Linked DNA regions of Homo sapiens: all the other regions are reported to be linked to region 1. Evidence: microRNA targets listed by miRTarBase, many of them from high-throughput screens and not tested one by one. Region 1 holds a microRNA gene; each other region holds the end of a gene's coding sequence.

What was found. Region 1 holds the annotated microRNA hsa-miR-6879-5p (CAGGGCAGGGAAGGUGGGAGAG, at 6,621-6,642, shown strand). A microRNA usually pairs through its seed, bases 2 to 8, with sites in the 3' UTR of a target mRNA and lowers its output. Matches are read on the target gene's strand: a 7mer-m8 pairs with bases 2 to 8, a 7mer-A1 pairs with bases 2 to 7 and ends in A, and an 8mer does both.
Region 2: the mRNA of ATP1B3 is a reported target of hsa-miR-6879-5p. Seed matches in the 3' UTR shown: 7mer-m8 at 7,332-7,338.
Region 3: the mRNA of AIRIM is a reported target of hsa-miR-6879-5p. Seed matches in the 3' UTR shown: 7mer-m8 at 1,040-1,046.
Region 4: the mRNA of SOWAHC is a reported target of hsa-miR-6879-5p. Seed matches in the 3' UTR shown: 7mer-m8 at 7,522-7,528 and 7mer-m8 at 7,507-7,513.

What each region holds. Positions count from the first base shown.
Region 1 is chr11:65,011,890-65,020,388 of GRCh38, forward strand. It overlaps MIR6879 (microRNA 6879), which reads left to right and starts at 6,616; the gene lies at 6,616-6,681. ARL2 (ARF like GTPase 2) reads left to right here and starts at 2,271. Exons shown (of 5, transcript NM_001667.4): 1 at 2,271-2,383; 2 at 6,475-6,585; 3 at 6,682-6,844. The coding sequence starts at 2,319. It overlaps ARL2-SNX15 (ARL2-SNX15 readthrough (NMD candidate)), which reads left to right and starts at 2,271. Exons shown (of 11, transcript NR_037650.2): 1 at 2,271-2,383; 2 at 6,475-6,585; 3 at 6,682-6,844. RefSeq lists a silencer at 2,118-2,877.
Region 2 is chr3:141,925,088-141,933,230 of GRCh38, reverse strand. ATP1B3 (ATPase Na+/K+ transporting subunit beta 3) reads right to left here. Exons shown (of 7, transcript NM_001679.4): 7 at 6,682-7,700. The coding sequence ends at 7,530. Among named protein-coding and RNA genes, the nearest start is that of ATP1B3, 53 kb to the right of the region's middle.
Region 3 is chr1:37,679,808-37,683,807 of GRCh38, reverse strand. It overlaps AIRIM (AFG2 interacting ribosome maturation factor), which reads left to right. Exons shown (of 5, transcript NM_001350770.2): 4 at 371-489; 5 at 648-2,238. The coding sequence ends at 685. Among named protein-coding and RNA genes, the nearest start is that of AIRIM, 8.7 kb to the left of the region's middle.
Region 4 is chr2:109,615,310-109,623,808 of GRCh38, reverse strand. SOWAHC (sosondowah ankyrin repeat domain family member C) reads right to left here. Exons shown (of 1, transcript NM_023016.4): 1 at 4,819-8,499. The coding sequence ends at 7,742. It also overlaps a transcript of RANBP2 not described here. Among named protein-coding and RNA genes, the nearest start is that of SOWAHC, 5.2 kb to the right of the region's middle.

The DNA of each region.
Region 1 (8,499 bases):
TGAATTTTTGTTTTTGTTTTTCATTTAATATGGCGCGGACATCTTTCCACACTGGTATCTTACAGCTCCACCTCACTGTTTTCTGTTTCTTTGAGACGGTCTAACTCTGTCATGAAAGCTAGAGTGCAGTGGCATGATCACGGCTCACTGCAGCCTTATCCTCCCTGGTTCCCACCTTGGCCTCCTAGGTAGCTGGAACTACCGATGTGCACCACTACACCTAATTTTTTTTTTTTTTTTTGAGACAGACAATTTCGCCCAGGCTGGAGTGCAGTGGCACAATTTCAGCTCACTGCAACCTTCGCCTCCTGGGTTGAAGTGAGCATGTCTGGCTAATTTTTGTATTTTTTATAGAGATGGGAGTCTCCCTAAGTTGGCCAGGCTGGTCTTGAACTCCTGGGCTCAAGCAATCCACTCACCTCTGCCTTCCAAAGTGCTGGGATTAGACATGAGCCACTGCGCCTGGCCCACTTCACTGTTTTAAGGGCTTCATGAATTCACATGCACCTACCCCGGCTCAGGTAACCTGCCCTCACTGGAGGCACTTAGGTTTTTTCCAATTTCTTGCTGTTCCAAACCATGCCACAGTGAACTTCGTTGTTCCTGTGCAGTGCCAGAATGTCTGTGGTGCAGGCTCCTAGAAGCAGGATGGCAGGCTCCTACCTCTAGACATTTCTTTTTTTTTTTTTTTTTTTTTTTTGAGACGGAGTCTCACTCTGTCACCCAGTCTGGAGTGCAGTGGCACAATCTCGGCTCACTGCAACCTCCGTCTCCTGGGTTCAAGCAATTCTCTGCCTCAGCCTCCCGAATAGCTGGGATTACAGGTGCCGCCACCACGCCCAGCTAATTTTTTGTATTCTTAGTAGAGACGGGGTTTCACCATGTTGGCCAGGCTGGTCTTGAACTCCTGACCTCGTGATCCACCTGCCTCGGCCTCCCAAAGTGCTGGGTTTACAGGCGTGAGCCATGGCGCCCGGCCAGCATTTCCCATTTTGATCTTAGCTGCATTTCGAAGCCTCTGGGTAGGCGATATGCTCACTTTCTTCCTTGTGTGTGTGTGATGGAGGGTAAATGGTGCTGACCGAAGGGTCCCACTCAGGCAGCCTATCTGTTCAGCCCTCCTCTGACCACAAGCCCCTTTCTGCAAGATGGGAAGCTCCAGCTTCTTCCAGACCTCTCTCTAGGCAAACTTCATGGAGGCATGAAGACATTGTGCTTTACCATTTACTAGACCTGAGTTTGAATCTCACCCATGCTCCTTAAACACTCTGGATTCCATTATCATAGCTACGAAAAGAATATAAACCTCTCAGGGTTGCAGGGAGGATGAAGCTGAACACGTGAAGTGCGTTGCAAACAGTTACACAGGAGTTAGCTATTGTCCTCAGCTGGTGCTGACAGCTCTTTCCCAAGCATGAGAGAGGCTCTTCCGTGCTGCCTATCCACACTTACCTGCAGCAATAAGGCTGTCTCCTGAGTTTACAAAAGGGCTTGGTCCTTGACCTATTTCCTCACTTCTTCTGGACTTCTTGAGCGCTAAAGTAAAGAATGAAACTCTTGGACAAAGCCATTCATTCAACAACAAATATTTATTGAGCACCTACTACATGCCAGCCACTGTGCTAAGCACCATCTGGGCCTCAGTTTTTCCATCTGCAAAAGTAGGAACTGTGCTTCTGAACAGGGAAACGCTGGGCCTCTGGGTGGGGGCAGCCTTTGGGGCGGGACTGCAATTCCGTCATTGGAACCCAGGGACGCCCCGCATGTTTCCGAACGGCCTCCAGGGGGCACCGCCGCCCTGAACTGAGAGCCACCGGAGCCGGGTAGGGGGAGGCCCAACTTTCCGCTCTGTCAGAGGATGATGCCGAGGGCCCAGATGAGCAGGATTTGGACTGTGTTGCTGGGAACGGGGGCCTACACTGGCCCCAGGATGAGTTCGTCCGTACCTGGGGGCCCTGGGTTCTGACTCTCAGGTCAGACGCAGCCAAGATGCAACTCAGGAACTTCAAGGTTTCCGCTCCGGCCAAGAGCCCCAGTCCGGCAGGGGAAAGGGTGGGGGAGTCGCCCTTGCTCCCCCAGCCTCAGCCCTCGGGAGGCGCAGCGTCAGGGCGGGCGGCAGCACAGAAACCCCCCGCGCCGCTAGAGGGACCCTCGCAGCAGCTGCGCGGGCGACCTCGCGGTCACGTGCGGCAAGGGCGGGACCAAACGAGCGTCCGGCCAATCGACTATGCCGTCGGCGAGCGTGATAGCCAACAGGAACCGGGAGCGGGGTCCCGGGACTGGGAAGAAACGGCGGCCGGGAGGGGGCTCCGGGGACCATGGGGCTCCTGACCATTCTGAAGAAGATGAAGCAGAAAGAGCGGGAGCTGCGACTGCTCATGCTGTATCCTACCGGACGCCGGAACCGCGAGGGTGGCGGGGTCCAGCCGGGCAGGCGGTGCCGGGCGCCCCCTGTCGGGAGCGGAACGCGGCGGCCGGCGCGTCCCAACTGCCCCTGGCGTCACCACGCGGGCCCCATCAATCGCCCCGTCGGGCCGGGAGGAGCCGCACCCCAGGACTGGGGCAGGGGCCAGCTCCGAGGGCCGCAGAAGCGGTCCTGCAGGCGCAGCGGCGGGGCTAGGCGGCCCGAGTGTCAGGGGTGGTGGGTCCCGGAGATAACTCGGACGCCACCACCCGGCGGCCTGGCCCAAGCGTGGGGCCGCTGCCCTCCCGGCTCTGATCTCCTCCCCCGGGCCCGAGGGTTCCAGGCCCCGGCCCCGCCCTCGAGCTCCGAATCCCGGGGGCGTGCGGGGTGGCGGGTGGCGCGTGTGGGCTCCGCGGATCCTTTCGAGCGTGGATCCAACAGTCCGTCTCTTTGGTGTTACGCGGCCCGTGGTTGTCCCTGCGGCTGAGGATGTGTGTGTGTGGGCCCGAGTGTCCCGTGCGCCCTGTGCGCCTTCTGAGTCCAGTTAGGCGCCCGCACCTGTTCCCCCAGCTCTGTGCCAGGCTCCGCGGGGGAATGGCTGGGGAGATAAGACGCTTACGTGCACATATAACTTAATAATCACATCATGACTGTTTTGTTTTTTGAGACAGGGTCTTGCTCTGTTGCCCTGGCTGGAGTGCAGTGGCACAATCAAGGCTCACCGCAGCCTCCAGCTTCTAGGCTTAAGTGATCCTCCTGCCTCAGCCTCCCAAAACTCTGGGAATATAGGCATGAGCCACGGAGTCCGGCCCATGTCTGTTTTATTTTGTTTTGTTTGAGACGGAGTTTCGCTCTTGTTGCCCAGGCTGGAGTGCAGTGGCACAATCTCAGCTCGCTGCAACCTCCGCCCCCCGAGTTCAAGCAATTCTCCTGCCTCAGCCTCCCAAGTAGCTGGGATTACAGGTGCCCGCCACCACGCCCGGCTATTTTTTTAAATATTGTTAGTAGAGACGGGGTTTCACCTTGTTGGTCAGGCTGTTCTCGAATTCCTGACCTCAAGTGATCCACCCGCCTTGGCCTCCCAAACTGTTGGGATTATGGGCGTGAGCCACTGCGCCGGGCCGCATGTCTGCTTTAAAGAGCTCTAAGAAAAGCATACAGTTCACTCATTTGATAAATATTGAGTGCCTAATATGTGCTAGACACTGTCCTAGTGCCCAGGGTAATAAAACTAAAAAATCTTACCTTCATGGAAATTCTGTAATGCGTGTGTGTGTGTGTGGCGGGGGGGTTGCCCGCGGGTAGAAAGATGATAACACAGGAAGTAAGTAAAATATGTAATAGAGGCTGGGTGCGGTGGCACACACCTGTAACCCTAGCACTTTGGGAGGCTGAGGTGGGAGGTTCGCTTGAGCCCAGGTGTTTGAGACCAGCCTGGGCAACATAGTGAGACTCTGTCTCTATTTATACATATATATATTCTCCATACATACTATATATATATGGGCCATGCTTTGGACCATGCTTCTGGGGAACAGGGCCTTATACTGCTCCAGGATGAACTCCCACTACGTATATAGGTATGGAGAATAATGCAATTTAGGGTGGTCAAAGAAGGCCACTGTATGATGGCAGGGCGCAGTGGCTCATGCCTGTAATCCCAGCACTTTGAAAGGCCGGGGCGGATGGATCGCCTGATGTCAGGAGTTTTGAGACCAGTCTGGCCAACATGGTGAAATCCCGTCTCTACTGAAAATACAAAAATTAGCTGGATGTGGTGGTGGACACCTTTAATCCCAGCTACCTGGGAGGCTGAGGCAAGAGAATTGCCAGAACCCGGGAGGCGGAGACTGCAGTGAGCTGAGATCACGCCATTGCAGTCCAGCCTGGGTGACAAGAGCGAAACTCTGTTAAAAAAAAAAAAAATGACAATTGAGTACATGAGGGAGGCGAGGGTTGAACCATATAGCAATTCGGGGGGGGGGGAAACTTTAAAGCAAAGGGAACAGCAAGTCAGAGGCCCTGGGAGGACTAACTGGCGTGTTCAGAGGACTGGTGAGGAGGGCAGTATGGCTGGAGTGGGGAGGAGGAGCGTTGACTGGGAACCCCCTCACCTAGGGCCTTTTGGTTTTTGGTTTTCCCTTTCAGTGAGAAGTGCAGTGGAGAGAAGGAATCGCAGACCAGTTAGGCCACTGCAGTGACGCAGGCGAGATAGGATGGTGGCTTGGACCAGGATGGAAGTAGTGAGGTCATGGAAGTTTCTGGCCTGAGCAATTAGAAGGGTGAGGAACCATTTGCTGAGATGGAGAGGACTGGGGGAGGAGCAGGTTCAGGGTGGAGATGAGAACCCTGTGTGTGCCTGTGTGTGCCATGTGAGATGCCTCCGAGACAGCCCAGAAGTGTCAGGCAGGCAGCTGGATGTAGGCACTGAGGTCCAGTGTGTGGGAGGTGCACATTTGGGTGTTATCAGGATAGAGATGGTATTTGAAGCTGTGATCCTGGATGAGGTCACCCAGGGATGAGCGTGGCCAGAGAAGAGAACCCGGTTGTACCAGGATGAAGTCAGGTGAGGAGCAGAACCAGGTGAGGGTGTGTCCCAGTGCCAAGGGCAGCGCATGTGCTGGGGAGGAGGGTGAGCCACTCCATCAGGTGCTGAGTGGGGAACAGAAGATGACTGAGCGCTGTCCCAGCACTAGAGGGCCACAGGGAGGTCTTTGGGGACTGACCTTGGTAAGGACAGTTTTGGCCACAGCAGCAGCAAAAGCCTGATGGGAGTGTGTTCTTGAAAGAGCAAGAAGGCAGAAATGGGGGTGAGCACAAACAACTATTTTGAGATTTCCTGTAAAAGGAAAGATATAAATGAATAACTAGATGGGGCAGAGAGATCAAGGGCTTTGTTTGCTCTTTTTTTTTTTTTAATCAGACGGGGTCTCGCTGAGTCGCCCAGGCTGGAGTACAGTGGTGTGATCTCGGCTCATTGCAACCTCTGCCTGCCGGGTTCAAGCAATTCTCCTGTCTCAGCCTCCCGAGTAGCTGGGACTATAGGGGCCCGCCACCACGCCTGGCTGATTTTTGTAGTTTTAGTAGAGATGGGGTTTCACCTTGTTGGTCAGGCTGGTTTCGAACTCCTGACCTCAGATGATCCACCCACCTTGGCCTCCCAAAGTGCTGGGATTACAGGTGTGAGCCACCGCGCCCGGCCTATTTGCTCTTTTTAAGGTGGGAGAAAGAACGGCAAGCTCATCAGCCAGTGGGAATGATCAAGAGGGGAAGGAAACATGGATGATGGCTTGGGGGCAGGGGGTCATCAGCGGCTAGGTTCCAGGGGCTAAGGCTGGGCCTCAGGGGAAATGCCCTCCTCACCCCTCTCCTGGGCCTAGGTCATTTGCCCCAGCTCCGATGAGCAGGGAAAGGTGGTCGAGTCCAGGACCCGCCCACCCCACCATGCCCAACTGAGCTGCAGTGTTGGGAAGATAGAGGAGGGTGGTTCCTTCCACAGGTAAGCACACCCATTAATTTGCACTGTGCAGTAGCAGGTCTGGAATATTCCAGAAACAAATGAGGGTGGCTGCCTCCAGATATTTGTTCTTACCTTAGTTCTTCAAAAAGCTTGCTCCTTGTATTTTGGGTCTCAGCTCCAGACACCTCAGAGAGGCCTTCCCCGGCACCTGAGCTGAAAGAGCCTCCTCCGATGGCCCTCTTGGAAAGCCTCTCTGTTGTGTTGATGGCGCTAGCCGGGATCTGGCAGGGCCTTCTTTTCTCATTTGTTTGTACTTTATTGACTGTCTTCCCGCTAGAGTGTAAGCTTCCTAAGGGCAGGGCTTTGTCCTCTAGCACCCAGAAGAGGGTCTGGCACATAGTAGGTGTTCAACAAATTAAGGAGCCTTTGGTCAGTAGAGATGATATTTATAATTTGATACTTTCATATTTATTGTGGGCCGATTATGGTCAGGCATGTGCTCAACTCAGTTTGATACATGGTGGGAAATAATGAGTCCCCTAAGGGGCTCTGCAACAATGTCACCACCTGGCAGAGAACAGGGACTTCTCCTTAACCTGCTGCGCCCCAGTGGCCTGGACAATGCTGGAAAGACAACCATCCTGAAGAAGTTCAATGGGGAGGACATCGACACCATCTCCCCAACGCTGGGCTTCAACATCAAGACCCTGGAGCACCGAGGGTGAGCAGGGGCCCCATGGGAGGGCCAGCCCAGAGCAGGGCAGGGAAGGTGGGAGAGGGGCCCAGCTGACCCTCCTGTCACCCGCTCCTTGCCCAGATTCAAGCTGAACATCTGGGATGTGGGTGGCCAGAAGTCCCTGCGGTCCTACTGGCGGAACTACTTTGAGAGCACCGATGGCCTCATCTGGGTAGTGGACAGCGCAGACCGCCAGCGCATGCAGGACTGCCAGCGGGAGCTCCAGAGCCTGCTGGTGGAGGAGGTGGGCAGCTCCTACCCTTTGTGTACATGTATGGACGTGTGGCTGCCTTCTCAGCAGATGCCCAGAGGGGCCCGTGGCCCCAGAGGGAAACCAGAGGCAGGATCCCTTCCTTCTCTGGGCCCCCACCATGGGAGGCCCATGGTGCCAGAGGCAGGACACATGCTGTGGACTGAGATTGAGTTAACGTCCCTGTGGTGTTACTACGTCACTACCCTGAGCATCAGTTTCTATGCCTTGAAATGGTGATGATGACACCCACATCACTGGGCTTTAGGGAGGATAACCCAAGGCCAGTATGAAGCTTCGAGAGGCCATGGAGCCTGGCTCAAGAGTCTGACTCTTTGCTGTGTGACCTCAGCTGGGGGTGGTGGCACGCACCTATAGTCCTAGCTACTCTGGAGGCTCAGACAGGAGGATCAGTTGAGCCCAGGAGGTTGAGGCTGCAGTGAGCTGTGATCGTGCCACTGCACTCCAGCCTCCTGGGCGACAGAGCAAGACCCTGTCTCAAAAAAAAAAAAAAAGGAAGGGGCCAGGTGCGGTGGCTCACGCCTGTAATCCCAGCACTTTGGGAGGCTGAAGCGGGCGGATCACGAGGTCAGGAGATCGAGACCGTCCTGGCTAACATGGTGAAACCCCGTGTCTACTAAAAATACAAAAAATTAGCCAGGCATGGTGGCGGGCGCCTGTAGTCCCAGCTACTCAGGAGGCTGAGGCAGGAAAATGGCGTGAACCTGGGAGGCGGAGCTTGCAGTGAGCCGAGATTGTGCCACTGCACTCCAGCCTGGGCAACAGAGTGAGACTCCGTCTCAAAAAAAAAAAAGAAGGACACTTGCAAAGATAGTACAGAGGTCAGAGGTCCCCCATATACCCTTTACCTTGCTTCCCCATCTTACCTAACCGTGGCCTGTCCAAACTAATAAATCAACACTGGTGAATTACTATTATCTTAATTACAGATTTTATTTGAATTTCACGTTTTTCCACTAATATACTTTTTGTGTTCCAATGTTTGATTCAGGCTACAAAATTGCATTTAGTTGAAAATGAGGACACTTGTGAGAGTGAAAGGGGGGATTCTGCAGGCAGAGTGGGGACTGTCCTGGGCACACCGCACACATCTCCTATGTGGGTGGAGCAGGTCAGATGAGATCAGGGCCGTCAAATGCTGGTCAAGGCAGGTCAAGGCCCAAGGGTTAGACCCGTCCACCCACATCTCTCCCAATCACAGACACATATGTGGAAACAACTAGAATCAGAGGTGGACAGTGAGGCCTGTCGGGAGTGGAACGGTTAAAGGGCTGTGTGAACCCAGAAGAGGGAGAGTTCACATCCTCTGTGCATGTCTGGTCATCAGATTGGAGCAGTCTAGAACCACGGAGAGCTCAGGGATCATCTTATGCAACACCCCTCCCTGTTCATGGAAGAGGAAGCTGGAGCATGGGGACAGCGGTGTCCCCTGGGTGGTGGTTGGCTGGAACCAGAACCCTGGCCCAGGGCTGCTCCATTCATGTGGGCCAGCCTTGATGGCTACGTCCACAAACTCACTCCTGGGCCTCTCCCACCACCACGGGGCCTCACCTTGATCTTCCAGGTCGATCCTTCACCCCAGATGCTCTGGGCCATTAGAGGAGGGGTCAGGCTGTCCTCTGAGTCCC
Region 2 (8,143 bases), not on the chromosome of region 1:
CCCTGGTTTAAAAGGTAAGTGGAGGCCAGGCGCGGCGGTTCACCCCGTAATCCTAGCACTTTTGAGAGGCCGAGGCGTGTGGATCACGAGATCAGGAGTTCAAGACCAGTCTGGCCAAGATGGTGAAACCCCATATCTACTAAAAATACAAAAATTAGCTGGGTTCGGTGGCGGACACCTGTAATCCCAGTTACTCGGGAGGCTGAGGCAGGAGAATCGCTTGAACCCAGGAGGTGGAGGTTGCAGTGAGCTGAGATCGCTGTACCCTAGCCTGGGCGACAGAGCAAGACTCCGTCGAAAAAAAAAAAAAAAAAGGCCTCCTGTACGGTGCACAGAGTATTTCCCTCTTATTCTCTGCACCCACAGGTGTATTCATAGGCCAGCGGTGCACCTCTTTTGGGATGAAATTTGAAGAATTCGGTCTCTAGAATCCATGGGCTGGAGCTGTTAAGGTTCTATACTCCTCCCTCTCCCCAAGAGTCCGTTTCTTTCCCCCCTTGGATTGGCTTATTTTATTGCTACTTCTTTGGGGATAAAACTCTTTTTGACTGTTAGCCTGTGAGTGAATTAACTCATCTTTGAGCAAGATGCGTTTCTCTTCTCCCCAGGGAAGTGTCACAAGCCCTGAGGAAGTCTCCAAGCTGGCTGGGGCTCCTGATGAAGGTGCTGGTAGGAGCTCAGCGGATGTGTCTGGGCTAATGAGGGCTCTGTGGCTGGACACAGCGCAAAACATGGGTTCCCCCAAATTTATTTATTTATTTATTTATTTATTTATTTATTCATTCATTCATTCATTCAGAGACAGGGTCTCCCTCTGTTGCCCAGGCTGGAGTACAGTGGCACAATCATAGCTCACCACAGCTTTGACCTCCTGGGCTCAAGGGATCCCCCTGCCTCAGCCTCTTGAGTAGCTGGAACTGCAGGTGTGCACCACCATGCCCAGCTAATAGCTAATTTGTAAAATTTCTTGTAGAGATGTGGGCTCACTATGTTGCCCAGGCTGGTCTCAAACTCTTGGCCTCAAGTGATGCTCCCTCCTCGGCCTCCAAAAGTGTTAGGATTACAGGTATGAGCCACCACGCCTGCCCAGGCTGGAGTGCAGTGGCACGATCTCGGCTCACTGTAACCTCCACTTCCTAGGTTCAAGTGATTCTCCTGTCTCAGCCTTCCGAGTAACTGGGATTACAGGCATGTGCCACCATGCCCAGCTCATTTTTGTATTTTTAATAGAGACAGGGTTTCGCCATTTTGGCCAGGCTGGTCTCAAACTTCTGACCTCAGGTGATCCACCCGTCTCGGCCTCCCAAAGTGCTGGGATTATAGGTGTGAGCCATCCCACCTGGCCATATCTTTGTTTCTCGCAACACACTTATACACATCACAATATTCTTTTTTTTAAATTTTCTTTTCTTTTGAGATGGAGTCTCACTGTTGCCCAGGGTGGAGTACAGTGGTGCGATCTCGGCTCACTTCCCGGGTTCACACCATTCTCCTGCCTCAGACTCCCGAGTAGCTGGGACTACAGGCGCCCGCAACCACGCCCGGCTAATTTTTTGTATTTTTAGTAGAAATGGGGTTTCACCTTGTTAGCCAGGATGGTCTTGATCTCCTGACCTCCTGATCTGCCCACCTGGGCCTCCCAAAGTGCTGGGATTACAGGTGTGAGCCACCGCGCCTGGCCCTGGGTATTTTCATTTTTATTTATTTTTTTTGAGATGGAGTCTCACCCTGTCGCCCAGGCTGGAGTGCAGTAGTGCAATCTTGGCTCACTGCAATCTCTGCCTCCCCAGGTTCAAATGATTCTCCTGCCTCAGCCTCCCAAGTAGGTGAGATTACAGGCGCCTGCCACCACACCCAGCTAATTTTTGTATTTTTAGTAGAGACGGGGTTTTACCATGTTGGCCAGGCTGGTTTCAAACTCCTGACCTTGTGACCCAGCTTATTTTTGTATTTTTAGTAGAGACGGGGTTTTACCATGTTGGCCAGGCTGGTTTCAAACTCCTGACCTTGTGACCCACCTGCCTCAGCCTCCCAAAGTGCTAGGATTACAGGCATGAGCCACCGCGCCTGGGCCTTTGGGTATTTTTAAAGAGTAAAGTGCCCTGAAGACTGTGTGTGTAGGTAAGGGGCTTGCCCTCCCACTGGATGGCTCTGGATATAAAGTCATGGAAACACAGCTCCTGCATGTCTTCTAAGAGGCTTCATGGTGTGGAGAGTGCAGAGTGCTGGCTGAGGGCCGGCCTGGCCCAGCTGGAGACTGAAGCATGCCAAACTGACTCTATCCCTTAGGAACCAAGAGGACAGCCACCACCCACAGTACCAGGCAGAAGCAGCCTGGGCCTCGTGGTAGTTGCTAATCTGTAAGTTCCATGAAGGCAGGGATTATGTTTTGATCCCCAGTGTAACCCAGGCTCCTTGCACAGTGCCTAGCACACAGTGGTGCTCAATACACATTTTTTTTTTTTAAAAGGAGTCTCACTGTGTCGCCCAGGCTGGAGTGCAAGGGCGTGATCTCCACTCACTGCAACCTCCGCCTCCTAGGTTCAAGTGATTCTCCTGTCTCAGCCTCCCAAGTAGCTGGGACTACAGGTGCCTGCCACCACGCCCAGATAACTTTTTTGTATTTTTAGTAGAGATGGGGTTTCATCATGTTGGTCAGGCTGGTCTTGAACTCCTTGACCTCAGGTGATCCGCCCACCTTGGCCTCCCAAAGTGCTGGGATTACAGGCATGAGCCACAGCGCCCAGCCTCAATACACATTTTAAAGTGAATTTTGGTAGAATATATATATATATATATATTTGTTTTTTGTTTTGAGGCAGTCTCATTCTGTCGTCCAGGCTGGAGTGCAGTGGTGTGATCTCGGCTCACTGCAACTTCCGCCTCCAGGGTTCAAGCAATTCTCCTGCCTCAGCCTCCCGAGTAGCTGGGACCACAGATGCACGCCCCCACGCCAGGCTAGTTTTTTTGTTTGTTTTTTGTATTTTCAATAGAGATGAGATTTTGCCATGTTGGCCAGGCTGGTCTTGAACTCCTGACCTCAAGTGATCCACTCGCCTTGGCCTTTCAAAGTGTTGGGATTATAGGTGTGAGCCACTGCACCCGGCCTCAATATTTCTTTAAAGACATGGGGTCTCACTGTGATCTCCCAGGAGTTCAAGCAATCCTCCTGCTTCAGCCTCCCAAGTAGCTGGGACTATAGGTGTGCCCTACCACACCCAGCCCTAAATTAATTTTTTAAATGAAGTATCTCACTAAATGACATGACAGCAACTTTGCACAGATGAGGTGAGTTCCCTTCATCTCCAAGCCAGTGGTCCCAGAACCTCACCCTATGCAGTTAGGAGCAAGAGACTGCTGACAAGGATCCCATTAATAGGCCCAAACCATGCCATCCTCAGGAAGCCGGACTCATGGTTGCAGGCCCCTGTCCTCCCACGGGGCCACAGAAAATAGCAAAGGAAATGAAAATGTCCCATCCAACCCGGGCTCTGAGACCACACTGACAAAGCTTAGTGTCTGAAAGCCAGGGGCCCAACACAGGGCACCTCTCCGCAGCCTCTGTGTTATTTCATAGCTGAACAAATTCTATCCTAGGCCTTTCTTCTCTCAGATCCCTCTTCCTCCCTCCTTACGCGGGCTCTGAATTCCAGGCATTACACCAACCACAATCATACACACAAGGGCCTCGTGCTCTGATGTAGCCCTTGAAGCAACAGCAGCACCTGAAAGCCTGTTAGGAAGCAGAATCTTGGGCCCCACCCTGGACACTGCCCAATCAGAATCTGCATTTTAAACAGGAGCCCTTGATGGAGCAGTTTGAGAAGCACTGGGTTGGAGTAGTAATCATCACTGAGAAGATGACCATATCAGCATTCTATCTGCCTCCATAACAAATTATCACGAAATTGGTGGCTTAAAACAATATTCATAACCTCCCATTTCTGTAGGTCAGCGGTGTGGGCACAATGTAGCCCAGCTGGGTCCTCTATGCAGGGCCTCAGGGCTGGGCTCTTAAGGCTCTGGGGAAGATCTGGCTTCCAAGCTCACTGGCCATTGGCAGAATGCACTTCCTTTGGCTTCCCACACAGCCACATTGAAAACAGCAAGCATGTGTCCAAACCCAGAGGCTTCAGGTCTCACTTCTGCTTACAGCTCCTATGATCACACTGGGCCGTCGGATAATCCAGGATAATCTCCCCATTTTAAGGTCAACCCACCAGTTACCTTAATTTCATCTGCAAAGCCCCTCTTGCCACGTGATAGAGCATAACCATGGGCATGGCCCCAGAACGTGAAGGTCATGGGGGCTGCAATTCTGCCTACCACATTGACTTCATCAGCAACAGGTCCAGTTCGGGATGAATCGCCTCTGAAGGGTGCTCTGAAGTGCTCCAGCTGAAGTTTTGGCCATCTCCGCCAGCCACACCCCACTGGGTTCCTCCTCCCCAGCTCTGGCTGTTTCGTCCCCTCTAGCCATCGCCCACCGTCCACACTGCCATACGGCCGCTCAGGACATCCCAGTTCCCTCCTGCCCGAGAGCTCTCATCTGAGGACGCGCATCATTCCTCAGGAAACTCTATCTTTCCACACCACCCCCAGCTGTTCTCAGCCACCCAGAAAAAAGGAACATAAACGCTAATGGGGAAAAACATGGGGACACATCTCATTTCACCCCACACTCCCTCAGCTCAACCTGGGAATGTAACCTGCAGGGCAGCAAGACCAGAAGCAACACCACTCCAGTTCTCCCAAGGGCCAATGGCATAGCCCTTGGGTATTCTCAGGGTTCTCTTACCCAGACAGGTGGCCAGCTAGCAGGAGTGCACACACTTCCAAATATCAGCTAAAGTCAAATGATGGCTCAATCTTCTCCATCTATTAAATCAAATTGGTGCTAGGCTCAATGGCCAAGGATGCAAAGCTGGTTGTCTTTGGTCCCTTCCAAACTGTGGTCTGTGAATGAGCAGTGGTAGGTATTACCTTGGAGTTGCTACATCTATAGAGTCCCTCCTAGTGAACTGGAATCTGCATTTTAATGAGATACCCAGGTGATCTGTAAGCACATCCTGAAATGCTGAGGAAAACCTGAAGTCAGCAGCAGAAAGGCGGACTCCAGCTGTGTCCAGGCATCCTTCGTTCCGAGTCCAGTCCTTACCTGGCCCATACAGGCCCAACTCCCAGCCACTCTTCCTCCTCCATCAAGCACCACCTATCTCTTGAGATCTTTCACAAAAATAAACTTTAGGGAAGGGTGGGACCTTTGGAATAATCTAGTCTTACCCCACCTCATGGCCTCTTGCATGTCAGCGCCATCACCATCATCATGCCACGTGCTGTGTCTCAGAGCCTGTTCCCTCCTAGTTTAAGATCTTTGAGAAACCATGTCTTTTCATCTCTGTATCCTCAAAGTCTGGCTGATCCAGTCCGGTATATAGCAGGTCTGCTAAATTGTTGTTAAACTGCCTTAATTTCGATAGATGAAGCAAGCAGAGCCAGGAGAAGTTGGGGAGATCAGCTAAGATCACTGGGCAGTCAGGTGCTGATCCACGTCCAAACTTCTGAACCAGGGAGGCATACAAGATGCTTTAGTGACTTACATGTGTGTGCCATTTTTATTTGTCTCCAACACCCACCCTATGTTGGATGCCATCTCAATTCTTCTTGTGTATTGAGAATGAGTCTTTTATCTAAGCTCGTTAAAACAGAAATTCCATCCATATTTACTTCAAAAGACTCAAAAATACAATTTAATAGAATACTTAATATGAATTTCACAGGCACCAAAGTTTACAGCTGTTGAGGATGAGGTCACACTGGCCCAACTAAAGTCATGTCACCTCTCTCACATCGTAGCATTCTTTTATCCTTGTTTTACACTCTTAAGAGATAGCATAAAGAAGAAAATCAAAACCCAGAAAAGGTTTGCTGTAATTACTCCAATAATTTCCTTCAGTGAAAATCTCTTATCACTATGATTTTAGTGACAGAGGAACAAGCAGAGCTCTGACGTGGGGCTGAGTGCCCACTACTAAAGGGCAGAGGCTGCCGCCAGGCCACCAAGGCCCATCTGGCCAGGCAAGGCCACCCAGAGCCCTCACGTTTACTCCAAACGGCCATTCTTGAGCCAGCTGGGTTGGGTCCCACCCCTTCTGGCTTGCACCACCACAAAGAAAACCTCAAGAATATCTGCTTTGCCGTTTTTTTTTTTTTTTGCAGACAGAGTCTCGCTCTGTCACCAGGCTGGAGTGCAGTGGTGTGATCTCGACTCACTGCAACCTCCGCCTCTTGGGTTCAAGCGATTCTTCTGCCTCAGCCTCCCGAGTAACTGGGACTACAGGCACGCACCACTACGCCCAGCTAATTTTTATATTTTTAGTAGAGACGGGATTCCACCATGTTGGCCAGGATGGTCTCGATCTCTTGACCTTGTGATCCGCCCGCCTCGGCCTCCCAAAGTGCTGGGACTACAGGCGTGAGCCACTGCGCCCGGCTGCCTTTTTTTTTTTTTAAAAAAGGAGAAAAGTAACAATAAACAACAGCCTTAAGAAAAAACAAGAAGCAACACAGATCATATGGGAAGCACAACTTTCTCAGCCAAGTAGCCCAAATTATCACAAATAATCCTACCAAGAATACACCTAATACTGGAGGGGAAAGAATGCTTACACAAAACTGTTGTTTGCTTTGAAGCTTTGAATAAGTTCCAAGTTTTTATATTTCACAATTTATATACTTTATTACAGTCCACAGTCTGCTAAATAAAAGCAGTAACAAGATATTTCACAAACTATTGTACAAATTAAGTCTTATGAATTTAATCTCATAAAAAATTAGGTGCATAGTCACACTGGCTAACCTAAAAATGCTATTTTATCTACAGCCTAAAATAAGAGGCAGTTCCAACACTAAAAATTAATCCCAGTTTTTTTTTTTACATGTTTTACAAAAAAAAGTTTGTGCTCTTAATCAAAAAGATCGAGGCTAATTCAGCATGTAAAAAATAAATTTTACAAAGAACCCAAGATAATATTTTTCAAACACACTTTTATTTTCTTTTTTTCCTTCCTCACATACAGAACTTCTCCACATACCACATTTCTTGCAGCTATAAAGTCACTTGATGTTGGCCGGGTACCATTTTATCCCTAAAACTCTGTTGACATCAAAATATGACAGTTGTTATATCCATAAAATATTTACATAGCACGGCATATTAAGCTTTAGACACTTGGCAATTAAACCACATAAAAAGAGGACAAGACCCCCATCCTACATGTTTGGAATCAGGTGTTCACCGGTCCCTATCTGGCGACTGTACACTGGTTCAAAGGGCAGCAGAGGCAACAGGCAGTTACTTCAGAGGACACTGAACACTATGATCTGGAAGCACGTTATGATGTAACCCAATGTCATGTACCACACACCTTTCTCCAAGGTGGTCTCATAATTCTAGAATGGAAGGTCCAGCTGTTACAAAATGAAGACAGACAACACAACATTTACTCTGTGGAGATATCCTACTCATACTATGCACGTGCTGTGATTTTGAACATAACTCGTCCCAAAAACTTGTCACGATCATCCTGACTTTTTAGGTTGGCTGATCCATCAATCTTGCACTCAACTGTTACTTCTTTCCCAGTGTTGTTAGGAGCAAAGCTGACCTGAACAGCAACCAATGGCTGTAGATACCCAACCTGGCAATAAAAGGAAAATATATTAATTCAAACTCTATGGAAACTTAATACTTCTCTCTACCAGGAATTGGCTTATTCTGTAAATTTTCTTTTTGAGACTGTTGCCCAGGCTGCAGTGCAGTGGTGCAATTATGGCTCATTGAAGCCTCAACCAATCCTCCCACCTCAGTTTCCTAAGTAGCTGGGACTATAGGCACATGCCGCCACAGCCCACTAATTTTTAAATTTTTTTGTAGAGACAGGGTCTCCCTGCCCAGGCTAATCTCAAACTCCTCGCTTCAAATGGCCCTTCCACCTCACCCTCCCAAAGTGCTGGGATTACAGGTGTGAGCCACCATACGTGGCTTGTAAATTAAAAAAAAAATTTAGCTCTATTATTTTCTGTTCTCTGCATTCTTTTTAATTTTTTGGAGCTGTAAGTCCATACCTGTAATTACTGATAA
Region 3 (4,000 bases), not on the chromosome of region 1:
TTGTTCATGTTTCCTACCAGCTGGGGTGTCCCTGCTTCCTCTGAATTGGATGTATTTATCCTCTGAACCTCCGCTAGCTTTACCTCTCATGTCCCTTTTGTTCTTTCTTTTCAGGATCTGATTTTGTCCTCACCATGCTGAGATCCCAGATTTCAGGGATGGTTTCATTCCTCTTTCCCTGTAGCACAAAGCCATGTTAGTAAACAGTTGCTCAGGAAATATTTGTAGCATAGGTGAATCAGGCCCACCTGGTAAAATGTAAGGATATCTGCACTTTCACTTTTATGGCTCCCTCTGGTTCTCACCAGGGTGTTTTTTTTCACTTCAGCATACTGCATTTTCTTTTGAGCAGTCCTTAACTTCCAGAAAGGTACCTGAAGAGAAAGTATCTTCTTTCGTCTATCCAGTGGGGAGACTTGGCAAACATACAAGCTTTGCCCAAGGCCTGGGACCGAATTTCAAAAGACGAACACCAAGATCTTGTACAAGGTACTGGTTTGTGTTCTTCCTTTGTGTCTCCTCTCCTCCTTTCTCTCCCTGTGGCTCGCCTCTTTGGAAGCATTAGGAAGGTGCCCTTGCTGTGCCTCTGTGTGTTTTATGTTCTCGGGAGAGGTGATAATGCCATTTTTTCTGTCTTCCTATTTCAGATATCCTATTGAATGTTTCCTTCTTCCTGGAAGAGTAAGGAAGCTATGCGTATCTGGAGACCACGGGTACCACAGTTGAAGACTGACATTCTGAACCCTGATGTTTCTAAAGAAACGTCAGTATTTCAGTCTGACATATTTGAAACATCAGTGCCTTGAACCTTAGGACTGGGTCTTGGGGAGGATTAGCGCCTAGATGTCTGATTTTGGAGCTGCAGCATGCCAGGCCGTGGCTGAGAGTATGTGAGCCATGCCTTGCCCTTTTCTGAGGCTCAGGGAAGTGGATGGAGCTAGAGAGACAACAGGAAAGACGGTGCTGAAGAACATAGTGTCTTTCCTCTATTGTGGACCTAAAGAGGTGGGGAAGCAAGGACAAGAGGCAAAGAGCCACACTGCCCTTGGCATCATCCAAAGCATTGTCTGGTTGACACCAGGTCCTGGTTTTGTGTCTTTTGTCAATACCTGAATCCTTGACAAAAGAAAAAGTGGTTTTGATGATTTAAAGAAATAAGGGTGATTTTGACAGAAAATATATTTTAAAAATTTTGACCAATTGCAATAGTTATCCTCAAGCCAATTTCCAGAACCTGCCACCAGGGGGAGGTGGTGCAGCATGAATCATTCTGAATGCTTTGTCTTTGAAGTGTTCCCCTATTGCTGTTACCATCTCAGAGGAAGTAACTGGGCATGGTGAGACTCCTAAAATGACAGGAGTTTTTTTGGCCAAAGCTGGCATCTGACTTGCCACATTCCTCTGAGTCTGGAGTAGCCGCAGGGGTGGGAGAATGCCAGCCCAGAGTCAGTCCATCGGGGTTACATTTCCAAGGTCTGCTGCCTTCATCTATGTAATGGCCGTGTTACTTTCAGATCTTTCAGCTTCCCAGAGTGTTGTGGGAATCTTGGTCATTGAATGTAAAGGGACTTAGTAAAGGGTATAGATATTTTTCAAAAATGAAAATAACTTTTTTTCTTATAAGTGATAAGCTTTTATAAAGATCATAGGAAAACTAGAAAAAATGTAAAATGTAGAAAATTGTAAAACAAACTTCATTAGAGATATTTTGATAGATACCTTTTCAGTGTCTATTTACAAATTTTTTCTTTTAATATAGATAGGGTCTCACTATATTGCCCAGCTCACTCCTGAGCTCAAGGGATCCTCCCACCATAGCCTCCCAAAATATTGGAAATACAGGCATGAGCCACTGCTCCTGACCAATTCACAAATTTTTTTAAAGAACAAACGTGCTATCATCGATACATACTGTTAGGTTGTCTTTTTTTAAAAAACCTAATGTAATTTGTTCATCTTTTTATATCTGTAAATATAGCTCAACACAGTTATATTCTTTTTGTGAATGTATTATATCTACAATTTACCTTTTTTCTTAGATTTTACATGCATTTTCCCAAATCTTTGTGTTTGCCTATCTGTAAAGGTAATACATTCTGATTACAAAAAATGAAAATGTTACATAGAAATGTACCGTTATCCATCTACCAGATAACTATTATTAATAATGTGTATTTATTTTTCCAGGAATTAAAAAACATCTATCATATAAGTATTGCAAATAAAACTTAAAAAGCATTTAAGTGTCAAGTCTTATGTTGGGCTCTGGGGACAGAAATAAAAGAGAGCCCTAGAAAGGCTCACAGTTCCACCAGGGAAAGATTAATGTGCAAATAAGTCACTGATATCTTGTTAAAATTTGGATTCTGATTCTGTAGGTCTGGGATGGGGCCCAGATTCTGCATTTCAAACGAAGTCTCAGCTAATGGTCCAAGGACCAGACTTTGGATTGCAGAGACTTAAGTTGTAATACAATAATAAAAGTGTTATAGTTAAGGTAAAAACAGGTGCTGTGGGAGAATAGAGATGATAACTAATTGCCTGTGGAACTCCTTCTTGATGACAGTGACATTTGAGGTAGGCCTTGAAGGGAATTTTACCTGGGGCTAGGAGAGGGGTGCGGGGCATTCCATGCACAGGGGATAATCTAAACAAAGGCCATGTTTGAGGCAGGATGGAAGCCAACACTTGACGAAAGCTAGCTGTGTGCCAGGCATTGTGCTTGTTGCCTTTACCCTCCACAACTGGCAAATAATAGTTCAGTATCACAAATAACAAGTTCACAGATGGATAGAAGGATGGCAGGAAGTGGGTCAGTAAGGGTGGACTGGAACCAAATTGTGAAGAGGATTATGAGTCCCAGCTCAAGCGTTTGTATTTTGCTCTACAAGTGGGAGATGCTCGCTTATGTGTATGCATGTGTAATAAAGAGGTTTTTAAACCTCCCTCATAGAAGCAAGTAATGGCTAAGTAGAAACAAGCACGTTTATGGTGCTCAGTAATAACTATATAGTATTTAAGTATTGTTTTTATTTTGTTCCCTCTTAGCTTTGTGTCTGTTAAAATGCCATATTTTTCATTGTTCTTTTTAAATTTAAAATAAAATTTATTTTTTTGAGACAGAGTCTCACTCCCACCCAGGCTGGAGTGCAGAGGCACAATCTCAGCTCACTGCAACCTCTGCCTCCCAAGTTCAAGCGATTCTCCTGCCTCAGCCTCCAGAGTAGCTGGGATTACAGGTGCTTACCACCATGCCTGCCTAATTTTTGTATTTTTAATAGAGACAAGGTCTCGCCATGTTGGCCAAGCTGGTCTCCAAATCCTGACCTCAAGTGATCTGCCTGCCTCGGCCTCCCAAAGTGCTGGGATTACAGGCATGAGCCACCACACCAAGCCTGATTTATTTTTTAAGTGATATATCAATATTGTAAAATAGGTATGCAAGAGCATATTTAGGCTGGGCACAATGGCTCTTGCCTGTACGAGCACTTTGGGAGGCCAAGGTGGGAGGATGGCTTGAGGTCAGGAGTTTAGACTAGCCAGACAACCCTGTCTTTATGAAAAAAAGAGCCAGGTGTGGTGGTGTGTGCCTGTAGTCCTAGCTATCTGCGAGGCTGAGGTGGGAGTTTCCCAATTCCCTTCCCTGAAGGCAACCAATATTGAATGTTTCTAGTGTATCTTTCCAAAAATACTATGCCTGTGTGAGTGTGGTGGGTAGGTATCCTCAAAGACAGCCCCCAGTGCTCCCACCTCTGGTATTCTTGCCCTTGTGTACTCCCCTCTCCTTCCAGATGGGCTGGACTGACAGATATACTTCTTTTTTTTTTTTTTTTTGAGACAGAGTCTCGCTCTGTCACCAGGCTGGAGTGCAGTGGCGTGATCTTGGCTCACTGCAATCTCCACCTCCCGGCTTCAAGCGATTCTCCTGCCTCAGCCTCCCGAGTAGCTGGGACTACAGACATGTGCCACCACGCTCAGCTAATTTTTGTATTTTTTAGTT
Region 4 (8,499 bases), not on the chromosome of region 1:
TTGATTTTGGCTTCCATGGTGGTATCCACCTTCTTGATAAAGGCATCATGGTTTTCTAGAGGTTGATTACGGACCAAAGCATTCTCTTTCCTGGACAGAATTCTCTCACAGCACCCACCTGGGTGCACACCTTAAGCCATGAGCCATTTCAAGGTCAGACATTGGGAAGAATAATCAGAGTGGGATAGCTTTTAGGCAAATTCCACCTGACCACACAGAAACTGGAGTCGCCTGCCAAAAGCCATCCATCGGGGTCACTCTGGGTTTTAGTCAGGGGAAGCTCCAGATAGGTCACCCTCTTAGAGATCCAAGAATTGTGGGGCAGAGTCCGGACCGCAGGAGGCCAGCTGGCAAGAAGAGCTGTTCATTCTGTTAACCCATAAACAGCCCCCGAGTACAAGCCTGCTCAGGATAGCTGTGTGGCTGAGATATCCCCTCTGGAGAGCAGTTGGACAGTGGGCAAGAAAACTGGTGGTGCACCAGAGAGGGACATGCAGGGGCACAGAGGAGGACACTGACAAGTGGCCGGGGGTGGGTATGGGCTCAAGGAAGAGGCCACTAGGGATTTACAGGCAGGGAAAATAGCACCCTTTGTAATAGATTCCGATAGAACAAACATAACACTCCCGCCTGTGCCAAAATGAACTATCTTTTTGTTGTTGTTGTTGTTGTTTTCTTTTTTGAGACAGAGTTTCACTCTGTTGCCCAGGCTGGAGTGCAATGGCACAATCTCAGCTCAGTGCAAGCTCTGCCTCCTGGGTTCAAGTGATTCTTCTTTCTCAGCCTCCCGAGTAGCTGGGATTACAGGCCTGTGCCACCACACCTGGCTAATTTGTGTAGTTTTAGTAGACACAGGGTTTCACCATGTTGGCCAGCTGGTCTCGAACTACTGACCTCAGGTGATCCACCTGCCTCAGCCTCCCAAATTGCTGGGATTACAGGCATGAGCCACTGTGCCCGGCCTCAAAATGAACTATCAAAATTCTTTTAGTGGGTTGCAAATTTATAAATGTATAGTACGAAAACCAGATGCCGTGTTGCTGGTTTTCTTCTACGCTGGCGTTTAATCTCATGATTATGTGGAAGTGGGCTAAGCCCTTCCGTTAATGCTTAAGTGCTTAGACAAGTGAAAGGGGACTGGACAGAGGGGAGGTGAGCCTAAACAAAGAAATATAACTACACCTCAAATATTTTAGCAGCTCCACCATTCTGAGCTGAAGAAATATTCTTTCCTGACCCAAATTAATTTGATCCTAGGTGACACTGGAAAATGCAAACCCCTAAAAATCCAGTTCTAACCCTACTGCTGTGAAGTAACAACAGAGTGTTCAAGTCATTATCTGTCTCAATCATTAATGCTTGTTTTTGGTTCTTAGTTTGCTCTCTTCTGCAATAGTATGAATTTCCTGTATCATTTGTACTTCATTAGGTGCTAGCCCCATAAACTTCAGGCCAGTTGACTGTCTCTTATGTTCCCAAAGAAGTGGTATTTCCTGTACCACTAGGGCTTCCCACAAACCTTAGAGCCAGTCTGCCTGAGCACAAAGCTGAACTGCTAAGAACTAGCTTTGTGACCTTGGGCAAGTAGCAGCTATTTGGGTTTTTGCATTTCAGTTCTCCATCAGTAGAAGTGAGGTACTAGAATCAGGGAAGGGGTATTATGAGAGTTAAACAGCTTGCTTTTTATAAAGTACTTGAAACCTCATCGGGTATATATAGTAAGCTTCCTGAAAGTCTTAGCCGTCTTAGTCTTAACCTTAGTCTTGCTGCCATGTCAGCACCTAGGTGATTCTAAACCTGGCTAAGCCAAAGGTGATTCTTTGCTCAATAGTGCTGAACTGACTACAACCAAATAATTCCCTCTTTATTTATTTATTTATTTATTTATTTATTTTTGAGATGGAGTCTCACTCTGTGGACCAGGCTGGAGTACAGTGGTGCAATCTCAGCTCACTGCAACCTCCGCCTCCCGGGTTAAAGAGATTATCCTGCCTCAGCCTCCCAAGCAGCTGGGATTACATGTGCCCACCACTATGCCTAGCTAATATTTTGTATTTTTAGTAGAGATGGGGTTTCATTATGTTGGCCAGGCTGGTCTCGAACTCCTAACCTCGTGATTCACCTGCCTTGGCCTCCCAAAGTGCTGGGATTACAGGTGTAGGCCACCGCACCTGGCCATCATTGCCTCTTAAATGCAAATTCAAAGATCCAACATCAATATCAGAAATTTCTGGACAAATCTCAAGAATGCTCAATTATGTTTCTAAACTATTATATTCAAAGTTTCTTAGAGATCCAGAAGACTATTCTAATGGAGGGCTCCCAGGTTCTTTGATCAGAATAGCATAAAGTTGGGTTAAAAAAAAAAGTGGCTCACACATGTAATCCCAGCACTTTTAGGAAGCCGAGGTGGGCAGATCACGAGGTCAGGAGATCGAGACCATCCTGGCCAACATGGTGAAACCCCGTCTCTATTAAAATACAAAAAATTATCTGGGCGTAGTGGCGCGCGACTGTAGTCCCAGCTACTCGGGAGGCTGAGGCAGGGAAATCGCTTGAACCGGAGAGGCAGAGGTTGCAGTGAGCCAAGATCACGCCACTGCACTCCAGCCTGGCAACAGAGCAAGACTCCATCTCAAAAAGAAAACAACAACAACAAACCAACAACTTATATGATTCTACTTTATACCACTGGCAAAGCACTGGTTAACTTTATCCTAAGTTAGGCTGCTTTTGGCCAAAGCTTTGGTCAGAATGAATATGGTTTAGAGCAGTGTTTCTTGAGACAGAACTGGTCACAAGTGTGCTTTAAAATGATCTATTTTAAATTTTCAGGTGCTCATGCAACCTCTGACACATTTCCAAAGGCTGAATGTTCTATCTCACAAGGCAGTCCATGGTATGTTTAAAATGATTATTAGAAAGTTCTCCATGTTAAACTAAACTTCATTTCCCTATTCATTTGCTCTTTGGGATTTCACAGAATAAGTAGTCATTTGTATACCTGACAGTACTTAGACTATTTAAGGCCAATTAGAATAATTTCTCCTACAGGTCTTGGACTTGAGTCAGCTTGTAAGGAAACTTTCTTTCTTTCTATTTTTTTTTTGAGACAGAGTCGCTGTGATGCCCAGGCTGGAGTGCAGTGGCACAATCTCAGCTCACTGCAACCTCCGCCTCCCGGGTTCAAGTGATTCTCCTGCCTTAGCCTCCCAAGTAGCTGGGATTACAGGCATGCACCACCATGCTCAGCTAATTTGTGTATTTTTTGTAGAGACTGGGTTTCACCATGTTGGCCAGGCTGGTCTTGAACTCCTGACCTCAGGCGATGCTCCTGCCTCGGCCTCCCAAAGTGCTGGGATTACATGCGTGAGCCACCACGCCCAGCAAAATTTTCTTATAATCAAATTTACTCTTGAAAATCTCTTAAATCGCTCACGAAGTACAGTTCTAATAAAGCTGATTTTATCTTCAGGATTGGAATAACTTGCTGTTCTTTTGGCTGAGCTGCAGATGAACTGATAGGCTGGTATTTAAGAGCCATGTTATATAAAAAAACTATTCACATAGCATGAATGCATGTAATTGAATTATCCATATTATGTAACATTATAAAATATTTAATGTTTTCCATTAAAAGACCCTTACTGAGTACCTTCAACATGCCAGGCACTGTGCAAGGGTAGAACATTTGTCACACATTCCTTACCAATGCATCGATGTGGAAAAATAGGCTATTAGTTAACAGAATAGGAAAGCTACTTACTGAGATGAAACTGACATTTAAAGAGAAGATTGAGAAAAAAAGTATAGTGTTCTTCATGGAAAAAGCAGGTAGTTATGTGAACCACATGACTTCTGTATCTTGAGAAACAAGTTTCTGTAGAGTCATCTTCCAACCCTCTAATATTCAGTGATTTATGAAGACTTGGGTGATCATTGAAGGAATACTGGTTTACAGCAAATTCCAAGTATTTAATCCTGGAATTAATCATGTAAGAAACTCCAAATAATGCTATTTACTTAGCAAAATAAAAATAATTTTTACTAGGAAAATTTCAAAAATATCTTTAAGTGAACTGGTTAATAAATCCTTTTAAGACATGTACTTCTAAGGAAAGAAGTTATTCTAGAAAAACAAACTACTTATCTAGTCTTTCAGTGATCCTGAAAAATATTTTATGGGTTATCATAAAACAAGAATAACCCCAGCAGCCATCACAGTGGGATCTCCCGGATAGAGCAATAGTGGGCGATTACACCAAAGGAGTACCACATCCCTTTGCCATTCAACAGAGTTGAATTTTGCTAAAAATACAGATCACAGGAAGCCTTGATGAGGTAATTAACTCTCAATGCTTCACAGAGGCTGAAAAATGAAAAACGGTATTCCTACACCTGTCTTGAAGTCAGCCCTGGGTAGGGCAGGTTTATGGCAGATGGTGTGTGCAAAACCCATACAGCTTTTTTTTAGGTAGTGGTGGAGGTATTACCTTCTCTCCAAGTTGATTCCTCCATCACTGGTGCCAAACTACAGCAGTTTTGCTAAAAATGTGGCAATTCAATGTGCAGAAAAGATAACGTTGTGGGAAAGCCCTGACTCTTATAATCTTACTAACAGCTTTTTACTGTGTGACCCTGAACAACCATTAACCTCTATTTTCTTATCTGTAAGTCAACAATATATGGCCCATAATCTTAAGGGATAGGAAAAGGGTCAAATAAACTGAAACTTCAAAAAGCATTTTGTGAACTGTAAAACACAGTATATGTAAAAAGTCTAAAGGACGACAGAAACTTAGACAATTCAGAGAAAAATTCTACTGTGAACATTTTATTTTCACAAAACAAACTTTACAGATTTTACAATCTCCCAAATTTCACTTATTTAAAAATAGGAGAGACAAGGCAACCTAGACTCCAAGATTGCAGGCGTGAAAAAACTAGTACCAGATATTCAAGTTATATATGCAAACTGCATTTTATATACCATGAAAGTGAAATGTGACAAACACTCACTAGTTTCAAGTGTACCTTATAAGAAACACATGGACATACTTGGGTTTTTTAACCACATAGTCTCATATCAATAAACATCTAAGTATCTGACATGTATTTTTCCATTAAAGGTAGGCACAACTCTATGAATATCAAATTATATCAATCATTTGCTTTTTATAATCTTGACTGGAAACTGAAAAATAAGAGGAATGTAAAGTTAAGTAGCCGAAAATGCTACTTACTGCACAAAAGCACATCATGAAAAGGAATGCTAGAAGTAGTTCTCCTCAGGAATGGGTTTTTGAAAATTTAAAATATTATTTTATCAGAAAAGTTAAAGCCTTCAGTGGGAAAACCATGGTAAATGACATATTGACTCAATCTCTAAAGCCCTGGCAAATTATAGATTTTGTGCAATTAGTGACCAACATATACATTTAAGAGATAATACTGACTGTTGACCAGAACCTTCTGATGGTTCTGAAGCATCTGCTCTTTAGAGTTACTTCAGCTTTACATGTCTATGAAATTTAAGATTCCTCAATGGGATGTTATAGCTTATTCTGCACTAGATACAAGTAATATGTATAGATTTAGAACAAATGACTACTTTTCACCTTCCAGGAGCCTGTTTTTATTTATACAAAATTAGATTGGTTTTTCACCCACATGTATGCATAAGTGCTTCTCAAATTTACACCGTTCATATCTGAAATCCCACAATAAATGCAAATAAATGGATACTAGTTTATATATTTCATATTTTCATTCATCTTTTTTTTTTTTTTTTTTGAGACAGAGTCTCCGTTGCCCAGGCTGGAGTGCAGTGTCGTGATCTTGGCTCAACTGCAACCTCCACCTCTCAGGTTTAAGTGATTCTCATGCCTCAGCCTCCTAAGTAGCTGGGACTACAGGCACGCACCACCACGCTCGGCTAATTTTTGTATTTTTAGTAGAGACAGGTTTTCACCATGTTGGCCAGGCTGGTTTCAAACTCCTGGCCTCAAGTGATCCACCTGCCTCGGCCTCCCAAAGTGCTGGGATTACAGGCATGAGCCACCATGCCTGGCCTTTCATCCATCTTTAAACAAATTCAATGACCATCTAGAGACAGATGTGACCAAAGTGTTACAAATTTCTATGCATTTTCTATGAATTGCTCTGTGCAGTTCACACATGGGTTCATTCACCCCGCAGGCTGTGAACTTCCTTATCCTGTAGGCTGCAGGTACTTAGGTTTCAGCAACTACGCGACCCAAAAGACTAAAGGAGGACTTGTTTAAATTAGTCCCTCTCAAAAATTGTTTCCAATCTTATAACAAACAGATTTAATATGCTTGTGGGTTAAATTTTAAAGTAGTTATGAAGCCATTTACTCTAATATAAATGAATGAAATGTAATTAAGAACCATACTTAAACGAGTACTTAATTTTAATGAATGGTATTTTTCATTTATATACAAAGGAATAGCCAGCAGCATTTAAATATAGAAATAGTCCCATCTCTTCTCTATTCCCTTTTATAAAGTGCCATTTTAATTGGGTAGATTTACTACCCAGATTTTCAGTAACTACAGGATAGGTATCTAATTGTCAAGAAAAGCTTGGAAAATTAAGTTTAGCATTTTAAACATTTGTAAAACATTGCTACAAGTCATAGAGACTACCAATGTATTAAAATAAAAAGTGTACCTTACATAAGAATCATTAAGTTGGTTTAATAATTACTTCACAGAAACATGGGCTCATGAATACTTAGGCCAATTTGTGCTAATTATTTAAACCAGAAACAGTTTCTGTAGGTAATTCAGCTCTAAGCACCATTAAATAGGGTTATGCCAAATAGAACAATGGTTAAATAATCCTCAGAATAAACACCCCAGCAAATTCAAACTTTTAGAATAGTAACAAAAGTTAGTGAGAATCCGAAAGAGAGGCAACATTTTATTGAAAACTATCATAGGCTGCTAAGTGTTCTCTTTAAATAAAATTTTGTGTAGTTATTAATGTACCTTAACACTGGTGTACCTTAATAGTGGTGTTAGAGATAGGTGGAAACCATACTACAGAAGTGAATGTTGCCTGTTTCTTTTGTTCAGTGATTAAAACTGAAATTGCTTTTAAAAAAATAATTTAACTGCTACTTACAATACACATAAAATACCAAGAAGATTCCCATTTTATTCACATTATTCTCTAATTAGTATTTTTGCATTTCAACTTTGATCTGACCTTCAGTAGTACCTTAAAATGCAAATGCAATTAGTAAAAACGGGGCAGCCTGTCGTTTTCACACTTAGAAATACAATGTAGTTTCATTACAGTTTGCATTTTTTTGTTACTCTTGAAAGAGTAACCCCTTATAAAATCAGATACATAAAAACTGCATTATTCCTTACTTTGCAGGCATCCAGGAATGGTTAAAGCAAAGGAACTCTCATTCATTAATTCATTCATTCTGTTCCCCCAATTTAGATACATTTCTAGTCTCCAGAAACGGACTCCAGGGCAGGGAAGTGGAGGGCAGAGAAGAGGTACAGGTCAAGGTATGATGAATCTCTGAAAAAGACATCCACTTTTCCCAGAAGGCTAGCCTGAAGAGAACTCCGCCCCATCCATTCCGATCCCTCAAGTAAGAATGCATAATTTAGCTTGTCCTTCTGGTCTCACTTCCTTACAACACCTAGTATTCAATTTATTAAGACAAATAAACCTTTGCATTTTCTAAAAGAAGCAATTTTTACCCAAATACATTGGACTTTGGTCTCAATGTGAAGGGCGAGTGGCCTTTAACAGGTCGTTCCTCCCCCACTCCCTCCTCCCCCCTGCCCTCCAGCGGCTGCTCTGGGTCCCTGAAAGAGGGTGTGGTGTGGACGATCTGGGTTCTGAATCGGATTTTGTTGAGTCTGGGTTTTATACGTCCACTAGAGCTGCCCGAGGCTTTGCGCCCTGGATCCTTGGCTTTGCCTCCGACCCACCCCTCAGCCGAGTGGTGATGGTGGTGATGGTCCCCTCCATCTTCTAGGGCGTGTGAGAGTTTGTAGGTGATGAGATGCGAGGGAAGCACCTTTGAAAGCCTCCAGCGCCCGCCGCCGCTACCCGCGGCGCTTTCCCCGTCACCCTCGTCCAGGGCTCCCACCAGGTTCTTGATCTCCTCGGCGATGCTCCGACTCAGGTACTGGGAGGCCTTTTTCCCACTGTAGTCCCTGATGTCCACATCGGCGTCGTAGGCCCCCACCAGCAGCTTCACCACCTCCACGTGGCCGTGCATGGCTGCCAAGTGCAGGGCGGTGTAACCCCCGCTCGTCCTGGCGTCGATGTTCACCGGCAGCTGGTGTTTGTTGGCGAAGTTGACTAGCATGGCCAGAAGCTCCTGCCTGCCGTGCTTGGCGGCCCAGTGCAGGCAAGTGAAGCCGGTAATGAAGTCCCGCTTGACCAGCAGGCCGGGCTCGCAGGTGAGCAAGCCCTCCAGGCTGTCCCACTTGCCATCGGAGGCAG